Homo sapiens: one gene and its partners. The protein of the gene in region 1 interacts with the protein of each later gene in a biochemical or structural test. Each region holds a gene or a part of one and is shown on either strand. Other genes may lie near its edges. The genes, in order: PKMYT1, CDK1 and MAPK8.

Evidence for each region.
Region 2: of the proteins of PKMYT1 (region 1) and CDK1, one has a biochemical effect on the other in vitro, tested with the Homo sapiens proteins (2 studies listed by BioGRID and IntAct).
Region 3: the proteins of PKMYT1 (region 1) and MAPK8 form a complex in vitro, tested with the Homo sapiens proteins (one study listed by BioGRID).

The regions. Positions count from the first base shown.
Region 1 is NC_000016.10:2,974,672-2,977,475, reverse strand, and holds part of PKMYT1 (membrane-associated tyrosine- and threonine-specific cdc2-inhibitory kinase), read left to right. Parts: exon of another isoform or gene 1-407; coding exon of another isoform or gene 408-444; coding exon 445-812; intron 813-1,663; coding exon 1,664-2,157; intron 2,158-2,804. UniProt on the Homo sapiens protein: Acts as a negative regulator of entry into mitosis (G2 to M transition) by phosphorylation of the CDK1 kinase specifically when CDK1 is complexed to cyclins. Mediates phosphorylation of CDK1 predominantly on 'Thr-14'. Also involved in Golgi fragmentation.
Region 2 is NC_000010.11:60,781,478-60,784,977, reverse strand, and holds part of CDK1 (cyclin-dependent kinase 1), read right to left. Parts: intron 274-3,500; coding exon 117-273; intron 1-116. UniProt on the Homo sapiens protein: Plays a key role in the control of the eukaryotic cell cycle by modulating the centrosome cycle as well as mitotic onset; promotes G2-M transition via association with multiple interphase cyclins.
Region 3 is NC_000010.11:48,421,495-48,425,229, forward strand, and holds part of MAPK8 (mitogen-activated protein kinase 8), read left to right. Parts: intron 1-2,593; coding exon 2,594-2,665; intron 2,666-3,019; coding exon of another isoform or gene 3,020-3,091; intron 3,092-3,735. UniProt on the Homo sapiens protein: Serine/threonine-protein kinase involved in various processes such as cell proliferation, differentiation, migration, transformation and programmed cell death.

The DNA of each region.
Region 1 (2,804 bases):
TGAAAAAGAAAGACACTTGAGGGATTCCGGGTTTTCACTTTGGAATTGGAGATAAGGGATCGTGGGCCCGTGTAGTCTCGGAAGAGGTTGTGTAGTTTAGGATCAAAGAGCTGGCCGTGATGAGGGCAGGGATGCAGGCGCAGCCCGTCTGACTCCAAACTGCCTTGCTCTTAACCCGACTGCAAGACCCTCAAGAACACGGGCCCCATGGTTTTCCTCTTATGTTTCTATCATCTCTAAAATACAACAGCCTGGTGGGCAGGTGAGTATGAATCTGTCCTCTGCCTTTTCTTGGTAGGTGCTTATTGCTCCCATTGCCGTTTAAAGTAGAATAAGTGTGTGGTATAGACATAGCTCTCTTCTGTGGCCTCTTTGGAGCCACAGGGCCAGGTGGTATCAGAGTGGACATGCTGCCCTGTACTCAGCCTCTGTCTCTGCCCCCAGGGCCTCCTGCACTGGCCATGCCCATGCCCACGGAGGGCACCCCGCCACCTCTGAGTGGCACCCCCATCCCAGTCCCAGCCTACTTCCGCCACGCAGAACCTGGATTCTCCCTCAAGAGGCCCAGGGGGCTCAGCCGGAGCCTCCCACCTCCGCCCCCTGCCAAGGGCAGCATTCCCATCAGCCGCCTCTTCCCTCCTCGGACCCCAGGCTGGCACCAGCTGCAGCCCCGGCGGGTGTCATTCCGGGGCGAGGCCTCAGAGACTCTGCAGAGCCCTGGGTATGACCCAAGCCGGCCAGAGTCCTTCTTCCAGCAGAGCTTCCAGAGGCTCAGCCGCCTGGGCCATGGCTCCTACGGAGAGGTCTTCAAGGTGAGTGAGGGGACGGCTTCTAGGCCCATCTGGGGGACCTCCTTTGTGTTTCTGCACCTCCCTTGGCAGGACAGTGTCCTGGGCAGCCTGATCCCCTTCCGTTCCCTACAGCCTGTCCCTGCTGGGCTCACAGGCTCCCTCCACATTTGACTTGGCTGCTCCCATCATCCCCAATGCAGGCCCCTCCAGGGGTTGCTCTGTGCATACTGGCCCCTTGTCCAGAGTCTGGCACGCCCTGCAGCAGCCCCTGTGCCATCTCCTCCGGCCCTGGCGCCAGCTGTGCAGCGTCCTTGGCGAGTCGGCCCAGCCTCTGGCACTGGCCCTGAGTGCAGTGCCTGGCCAGCCCTCCCCAGGCTGGCAGGCTTTGAGCTACCCCCTGCCTGCCATCTTGCTTTTCTTAAACACAGTTTCCAGTCATTTATATTTTCTTTTAGAGAGGAGTTTTCCCTTGTATGAGTCCTGTATGAAGACAATTTTGTTAAAAAGTACAAACAACATTGGCCCCCAGGTCAGCTTTCTCACAGGGGAGCCCACTTTTCACACCACAGCCTGGGCTGCCTGTGTTGCTCTGCAGCTGCTTTTTCCACCTCGTGACACATCCAAGAGGTCCCCTGGGGTCAGTGCAGGTCGGCCCTGGCTCCTCCGTCGCTGGGTCTCCACAGACCCAGCCCGAGGGATGGAGGTTTGTCTGGTTTTGTTATTACCCTGGGCAGGGGTCTGAGACAGATGCCAGCTACACCACCGTGCCCCGTGTGTGAACCCTTAATGGGGTCTGCCAGGTTGTCCCCCTATGTGATTGTGCCACTTGTGGCTCACCCTCACTGTGTGCGTGGGTACCACCTCCCTTCCAGGTGCGCTCCAAGGAGGACGGCCGGCTCTATGCGGTAAAGCGTTCCATGTCACCATTCCGGGGCCCCAAGGACCGGGCCCGCAAGTTGGCCGAGGTGGGCAGCCACGAGAAGGTGGGGCAGCACCCATGCTGCGTGCGGCTGGAGCAGGCCTGGGAGGAGGGCGGCATCCTGTACCTGCAGACGGAGCTGTGCGGGCCCAGCCTGCAGCAACACTGTGAGGCCTGGGGTGCCAGCCTGCCTGAGGCCCAGGTCTGGGGCTACCTGCGGGACACGCTGCTTGCCCTGGCCCATCTGCACAGCCAGGGCCTGGTGCACCTTGATGTCAAGCCTGCCAACATCTTCCTGGGGCCCCGGGGCCGCTGCAAGCTGGGTGACTTCGGACTGCTGGTGGAGCTGGGTACAGCAGGAGCTGGTGAGGTCCAGGAGGGAGACCCCCGCTACATGGCCCCCGAGCTGCTGCAGGGCTCCTATGGGACAGCAGCGGATGTGTTCAGGTGGGGACCGGGGCACGCCAGGTGTTTGGCAGGCTGTGGGAGGCCCTTCCTGGGACGGAAGCTCCATTCCCCAGGAGGGAAGCTCCACCCTAGCCCAGGACACCCGGCCTCAGAGCCACAAGGCTGAGACGCCATCCCTGCCCTCCAGTGGAGAGCGTCTCTGGTCAGGCTGCCTGTGAGCCTCGAACCCTCCAGAGCCACTTTGTGTAACCTGCCTCCTCACAGCTCCACAGGAGAAACAATTGTCACTCCATTTACAGCCAGATTAAGGGCCTTGCCGGAGCCCACTGCTAGCAAGTGGCATAGCTGAGACTGGCCCTAGGTGCTGGGTTCCAGGGTCCACACTGGTAACCACTGCCCTGATCATCAGGATAGTAATACCTGCCAGCAGTAACTGTGGTGCCTGTCCATCAGGGCACTGGGAGGACTCACCACTGTGGCTTGTGGGCTCCCTGGGCACAGAGCCCATATTCCATGATGTCCCCATCCTGCCCAGGGTTCATGATCAGGCCTGTTGGGGTGTCCCTTCCCCCTGCTTCCGCCCCTCCCTGACTGATGAAGACAGCAGCCCTCTCCCACCCACCTCCAAGAGGCAGCCCTGGACTGGGTCTGTGTCCCAGGGCCAACCCTGCCCCTTTCTGTCCCCA
Region 2 (3,500 bases), on another chromosome or scaffold:
TAGTCCACTCAGTAAGGCTAGACCAAGAAATTGAGCAAATGTAAAGATTTCCAAGTTGAAATTTATATTTGAAATAGCATGCAGAAAATGGCTTACATTCAGATATTACAACATACCTGACTATATTTGGATGACGAAGTTCCTTTAATAGAGAAATTTCCCGAATTGCAGTACTAGGAACCCCTTCCTCTTCACTTTCTAGTCTGATTTTTTTCATGGCTACCACTTGACCTGTAGTTTTGTGTCTACCCTTATACACAACTCCATAGGTACCTGAAACAAAGTAAATAATATGCTGTGTGACACACCCCACAAACTAAAGATCTTTTTTTCTTTTTTTTTTTCCTTATGGCAGGGTCTTGTTTTCTTGTCCAGGTTGGAGTGCAGTGGGTCAATCAAGGCTCACTACAACCTCCTCCTCCTGGGCTCAGGGGATCCTCCCACGGCAGCCTCCCAAGTAGCTGGGACTACAGGCACATGCCACCACACTCGGCTAATTTTTGTCTTTTTGGTAGAGATGGGGTTTCACCATGTTGCCCAGGCCAGTCTGGAACTCGTGAGCTCAAGCAATCTACCTGCCTCGCCGCCCCAAAATGCTGAGATTACAGGCGTGAGCCACCGCACCTGGTCAAACTAAAGGATTTCAAGATCATTGAATCCCATAAGGGTCACATGATAGAAATGTCTGGTGTGGCCATATGGGAAGTATCTTACTCATACCCTCATTGCTTCCAAAAAGAAATTGAGAGTAACTACAATCTGTATGGCTTAAAAATAAAATTCATGTAGTCATCACAAGTTTTCTATACATCTAAATTACCATTAATGTTCCAGCATATTTTACAGAACAAAATAGATCATTTGCAAATTAAAATTAACCTTCTGTCAATATCCTACCCTGCAACGAAGTGGGCATAAAATATAGTGTAAAAATTTGGGCTCAGGAAATATTACTGATAAAAGTCATTATGACACTTTCAGAAAATACTGTAGAGTGCTTTATGCTTTTCAAAACACTTTTATCTGTATCTCAAAATACAGTCAACAGTCCTCATTCTCAAAAGAATGGAGAAAAAAGACCAGGTGTTTGTGTATTAAACCTAATAAAGCACATTGTATGTACTACATATTAGGAAAGCCTCACACCCATTTGCAAGTTGATGAAAATACTGATTTTGATATATGGGCTTCAGGTAATGAGCAACAATATCAATTATAAGGGATAGCAGGGAGGGAGGAGGTGGATACAGGGAATGAAATGGCAATAAGGGAGAAGACTAGCTAAAATCTGTCATATACGTGGCTGAATTCCCTAGATAAGTCTTTTTAAACTCGAGTTGGAGTTTAGGGAGGTCCTGAACCCCTTAAGTACACACAAAATTTTGTTGAATAGCTTGCTTTCCATGGCATTGGTTTAACTTCAAAAGTGATTAGAGTGCACTGTTCTAGGAAGAAGGCCTCTTCTATAGCTTTTATGAGTTTCTCTGAAAGTAGCAATATTTTAAAAAAGGCTAACAACCAACAAATTACCAACTGCTTGGTTAAAAAATTAAGCAGTTTGAGCAGTAGCAAATTGATGCTACTTAAGCTTAATTTTTTTGACAGAACCTCTATACAAAAGTCTATGTTTTCTTAAATACTGGTGTCATTTTAAAACTATAAACTGACATGAGTCATTTTATACTATTTTGATTAAATTGTGGATTAATGTATAACTTTTTGATAACCAAAATTACTCTACATTAAAGGAGAATTGACTATATTTAATCCTCACAGCCATCCTTAAAAGTAGGCAACCTTCATATACTTAAAATCTACATTTTTTTGGATGTAAATTCAGCTCTCATTAAACACAAAAAGTAGGTAAACCAGTAGCACAATCATCTGGCATACTGTTTAAGTGATCTCAGGAAAATTAGTCACTTGCATAATACAGTCACATAAACAGTTAATGGTAAGTTCAGAACTAATTTTTTTTCTAGCATCCTTTCTTCTCCCTCAAGTGTACAATCTCATCTAATCCTAAATAATTTTCAGAATTAACAATTAACCAGTGGCCAACACTCAATGTGTTGAATTTTAGAGATAATATCACTTCTCACTGAACTACTGGAAGAGGGGTTAAACAAAGCAGAACTTTCTATTGGTTAATCATCCAAAATTATTTTTGAAATACATGGCATATCCTCCAAAATGAACTAAGAATTCTAAAGACAGAAATACTCTAGGGTATTTAACTAAGTATAAATAACTAAGGAGGCAAAAATCATTAACACAGGTAAGCCTAGAAGGAGATCAGTCTAAGTCTAATGGAAGATTTATCCCAGGAAACAAAAAGAAACAAAAGAAAAATATGTAGGATATGATCAAGTTATGGAGGCCCTTAAGCAGAAAACCTTCATTAAGCAAGTATTTATCAAATGCCTACTAAATGCCAGGCAAGGTTCCACCATCATGGATACTGCTACTCTATGATCCAAAAAGACATTTTCTTAAGACAGGAAGGATTTCAAAGATTAGTATCACAACACTCAGATTTCTGTAATTCAGAAGAAACCAGAGAACAATTTTTGTAATATTTAAAATAGTAAAGTCTGGAGGTATTTAAGAAATGAATTAGGTTGTCAAGACTCACTGTCAAGTGAGAGAAAAGGCAGAGACTGTTCTAAATCAGAATTAATGTCAATGAAAAAAATAAAAAATAATGCTAACATACATACAGATAATAAAGTAAACATGACAAAACACCAACATCTTGGTAAAAATATTACAAGTTCATTGCATAAATCTTTCAATATAGATTTGGAGATGTTCAAAATGAAAAGTTGAGGGGAAAAAATATAACTTTTAAAGTAGTATTTTAATACTAGACTTTAACCAGATACCTGGCAGAACCAAAAGAAAATTCTGTGTGAATCATTTAGGCCTCCATTTATTTCCACAAGTTCCTTTTTCCAAAACAATATCCAGCACATAATCCAAAACAATCAGGCATTGGAGTAGAAATGACAATACAAGCCAGAAAAAGAAACAACAGTGTTCAGAAGAGCAAACAAGGAAAACAGATGTTATTATTATCTATTTGGCTATCTCCTGTGGGTTGGGCACTACTGATAGGCAGTGGGCAAACAGTTGTGAACAAGACAAAAACCCCAGCCCTCAAGGATCCTATGGTATGATGCAAAGGGAACTACAAAATGCTCTTGGACTAGAGGAGGAGATAAAAAATGAAGCCAGTAGAAACTGGCCTCCAGGTAGAAAGAACAGCCATTGCCAAAACTCATAGGCCAAATCACAGGATACATTTGAGGACATCAAAGAAATCCAAATTAAGAGTTAAGTGGCATTAGATGGAGCTGGTGAAGAGATGGTTTTGGAGACAGTGTTCATAGTAATAATACAATGTTCAAATGATAAACATTTGAAGGTTTTCTGAGTTAAAGCGCTCATAACAAATGCTTTCCATAATATTGTTCAATTGAATCATATCTTTCGTGTTA
Region 3 (3,735 bases), on another chromosome or scaffold:
TAAGAAAAACTGTCATATATAGAATTGAGGCTGGGTATGGTCGCTTACACCTGTAATCCCAGCACTTTGGGAGGCCGAGGCTCGTGGATCACTCGAGGCTAGGAGTTCTAGACCAGCCTGAGCAACATGGCAAAACCCTGTCTCTACTGAAAGTACAGAAATTAGTCAGGTGTGGTGGTGCACACCTGTAATCCCAGCTATTCTGGAGGTGAGGCATGAGAATCGCTTGAACCCGGGAGGTGGAGGTTACAGTGAGCCGAGATTGCACCACTGCATTCCAGCCTGGGCGACAAAGCAAGACTCTGTCTCAAAAAATAAAATAGAATAAAAAATGAACTGACATATGGTTCCTCTTTAGTTAAGAATTATGTAGATCACCTTCTTGCCTTCCCACTCCCACCCTAGGAAACGGAGTCAAATGTAATGCTTAATGATTATAACTACATTAGCCAGCAAGGTTAAACATAAGTACTTCCTCCTTTTAATGACACCTCACACTCATTTTATTTATCTTATTTATTTATTTATTTATTTATTTATTTATTTATTTATTTTTGAGATGGAGTCTCACTCTGTTGCCCAGGCTGGAGTACAGTCATGCCATCTTGGCTCACTGCAGCCTCCACCTCCTGGCTTCAAGCCATTCTCCTGCTTCAGCCTACGAGTAGCTGGGACTATAGGCATGTGCCACCATGCCTGGCTAATTTTTGTATTTTTAGTAGAGACAGGGTCTCATTATGTTGGCCAGGCTGGTCTTGAACTCCTGACCTTAGGTGATCCACCTGCCTCAGCCTCCCAAAGTGCTGGGATTACAGGAGTTTGAGCCACAACGCCTGGCCTCCCACCCATTTTAACAACTTTGCTTTATGTACCTTTTATTGCAGGCTACTCAGAGCATTTTGGAAAGCAGTGTAATCAATATATTTTTAACTGCTTAATAGACTAAGCAGTTAGTTTACAGCTAGAGTTGTGCATGAATCAGACTTATGTTCCTAGTCTTCACTGGCCCAGATAATATCTTCTCTCATGCTTGCAGCTTTCAAAATACTTTTGTTTAAAAATGAGCTTTTCTGAAAGTTACCAAATAAGTTGTAAGCTGGATATTTAAAGTTTAACATTCTCTATAAAATCTGTAGAGAAGATTTATTCTAATAGATTTTTGTCAAAAACGGAAACCTTAGAAAAAATTTTTCTCTGAGGCACTAATTTATAAATATTAAATTTTTTTTCTAAAATCTTATCCTTGAAAGCTGAACCATGACATAAATATGAAAATATTCATTCATTTTAATATGACATTTTAGGGAAACTTTAGTTCCACAGTATTTCCAAAAGTAATTTCCAGTTTAGCTCTTAAGACTCTTCAGTGAACTGGCAGCCTTTTAATAAGAATGTACTGTATTAGAAAGTACAGGCTTTAATTTTCTAAGTCCTTTAACATGAGTAAAGGGCACGTGTCTTTCTGACATCTATTTGTGCCGTTTTCCACTTGTCATTTTAAAGAATTGGGACCTTCAGATGTCACAACTAAATGCAAGTTTCTAAGGCTTTTCCTTCTAAATTGCTCATTCTTCCCTCTTTTCCTGTTACACTGCAAGCACTTACTCTCTCCTTTTTGTGTGATGTTCAAACCCAAAGGCATAAAATGCCACGATGTGTTGTCAGTTTCCCTTAGTAAGTGGAGATTCCAAATTGTCTGTTTCTGTGTCTAGCAGATTCTTGTCAACATTGATTGGGATTCCCATTTACAGTTGGCAAGGGTCATCAGTAAGTCTTCCAGGAGACTCTTCATACTCAATTCGTGGGAACTGACTTACTGTATCTAGCCAAAACTAACTTCTTAAGCCAAAAGCAGTTTGGTTTTATGGGTTTAAAAAACTTTAGGTAGGAAACATGAAATACATTTCTCTTACTAAGTTTTCCTTGATTAGTTGTTCATTCTCTGTGCACTTGTTCCTTTTGGGATAGTAGGGTAAATGTAGCATGATGTTGCCAAGAAAACAAATGGACTTTTAATTCAGAACAAGCATAGCACTTCTCAGTTAAATGTATTTGGGAAATCCAGTTTAAAAATTCCAAAGAGCTTTAGATTAACTTTTTTATCATAATTATTCATAGAGATTATTTCTGTTAGATATTTTAATATGCTGAATTATTTTCTCATGCTTTTTTCTTAGAGAGTATAATGCACAGTTGAACTTCTAAATAGTATAGTATAACAATTTTATTTTTATAATTTTACTACCTCATGTACATTTTTATTTACAAAGTTTGTGTTTGGTTCTATTTCATATTTTATAAACAAGTTCTCAGGGACAAACATGCAGGGTTTTTCTATTTATGCAATTTCTGTGCATAGCTCTCACTTTGAAATTAGATATGTAGTTAAAATGCCACACTTTACATTTTCTTTTGTGAACCAGACTTTCAAAAAATAATTTGTGTTTTAAATTATTCCGTTAGCTAAAGTTACAATCACTTTTTTTCTTTTCGTGACGTTTTGCAGTTTTTATATAATGCAGTCATATTATGCTTCTTTGATTTTAATGACCTTTTGCTTTGCTTTTCCTTCTTTTGTGCTGCAAACATATAGTGGATTTATGGTCTGTGGGGTGCATTATGGGAGAAATGGTTTGCCACAAAATCCTCTTTCCAGGAAGGGACTGTATCCTTGTGCTGCTGCAGCAGTTAATTAGTTAGGCGATGAACTTCTTTATGTTCTCTAATGAAAATGAATATGCTACATTTACACAGATGGGTTTTTAAACAGGCATAAAGTTTGTGGCTATTATAGTTCAAAAATTGTTGAGATAAGAAGCTGAAATATTTGTAGGCTGCATCTGGCAGTAGGACATACAGTCTCTGCTGGTAGTCAGAGCACATTCACTGTCACTCATTTTTATTTTATACTGCTTTTTATAATTTTAAAGTATACATGGTGTGTGTGATTTTATTTCTTTCTTTTTTTTTTTATTTTAACCAAAATCTTTATGTTAATGTCATTGCATTTTGTTTTCAGTTGACATTTGGTCAGTTGGGTGCATCATGGGAGAAATGATCAAAGGTGGTGTTTTGTTCCCAGGTACAGATCGTATCCTTATCTTTGGCCTAAAATGTAGTTTCTAAAGGTCAAAATGTATGATAGCACTTCAGTTTGGTCAGGTATAATGTATTTTGTCTCTCCCTAATATATTGTTAAATTACTCTTAAAATACCACCTACTATTTGACATAGACTTTTCCTTCCGTTATTTATTGTTTCATATGTTAATTCTGAACCCTGCTCAATTGTAATTATGCACAATTACTTGCTGGCTTTGAGTTGATTTAACCTAAATCAAAAATCATGGCTTGCATTAAAAATTTATAATAATTATACACTTAAGTCTAGAAATACGTACAACTTAATATGAATTTTGGAGCTGTCTGTTGCTTCTGGCCATCCTTTTGTTTTGTCCCCTACCTCCTTTTTGTTAATGTTCTGTGTGGTTTGTGTCTTTTGATTGTTGTCTCATTACTCACATAACATACTGACCCTTTCATCTGAGAATTTCAGCAGTAGTAGTTTTGTATGGTAACGATAGCTTTGGATTCATACTTTTTGTTCATCCCACTACTTTTAATATTTATATTAACAGTGATTTGTTATGTGTTTACCAGCTAGTAACACTTAGAATTGTTTCAGGAGGAAGAATGGGAAAAGGCATATTCACAAGGTTACAATAAGTGAGTTTTA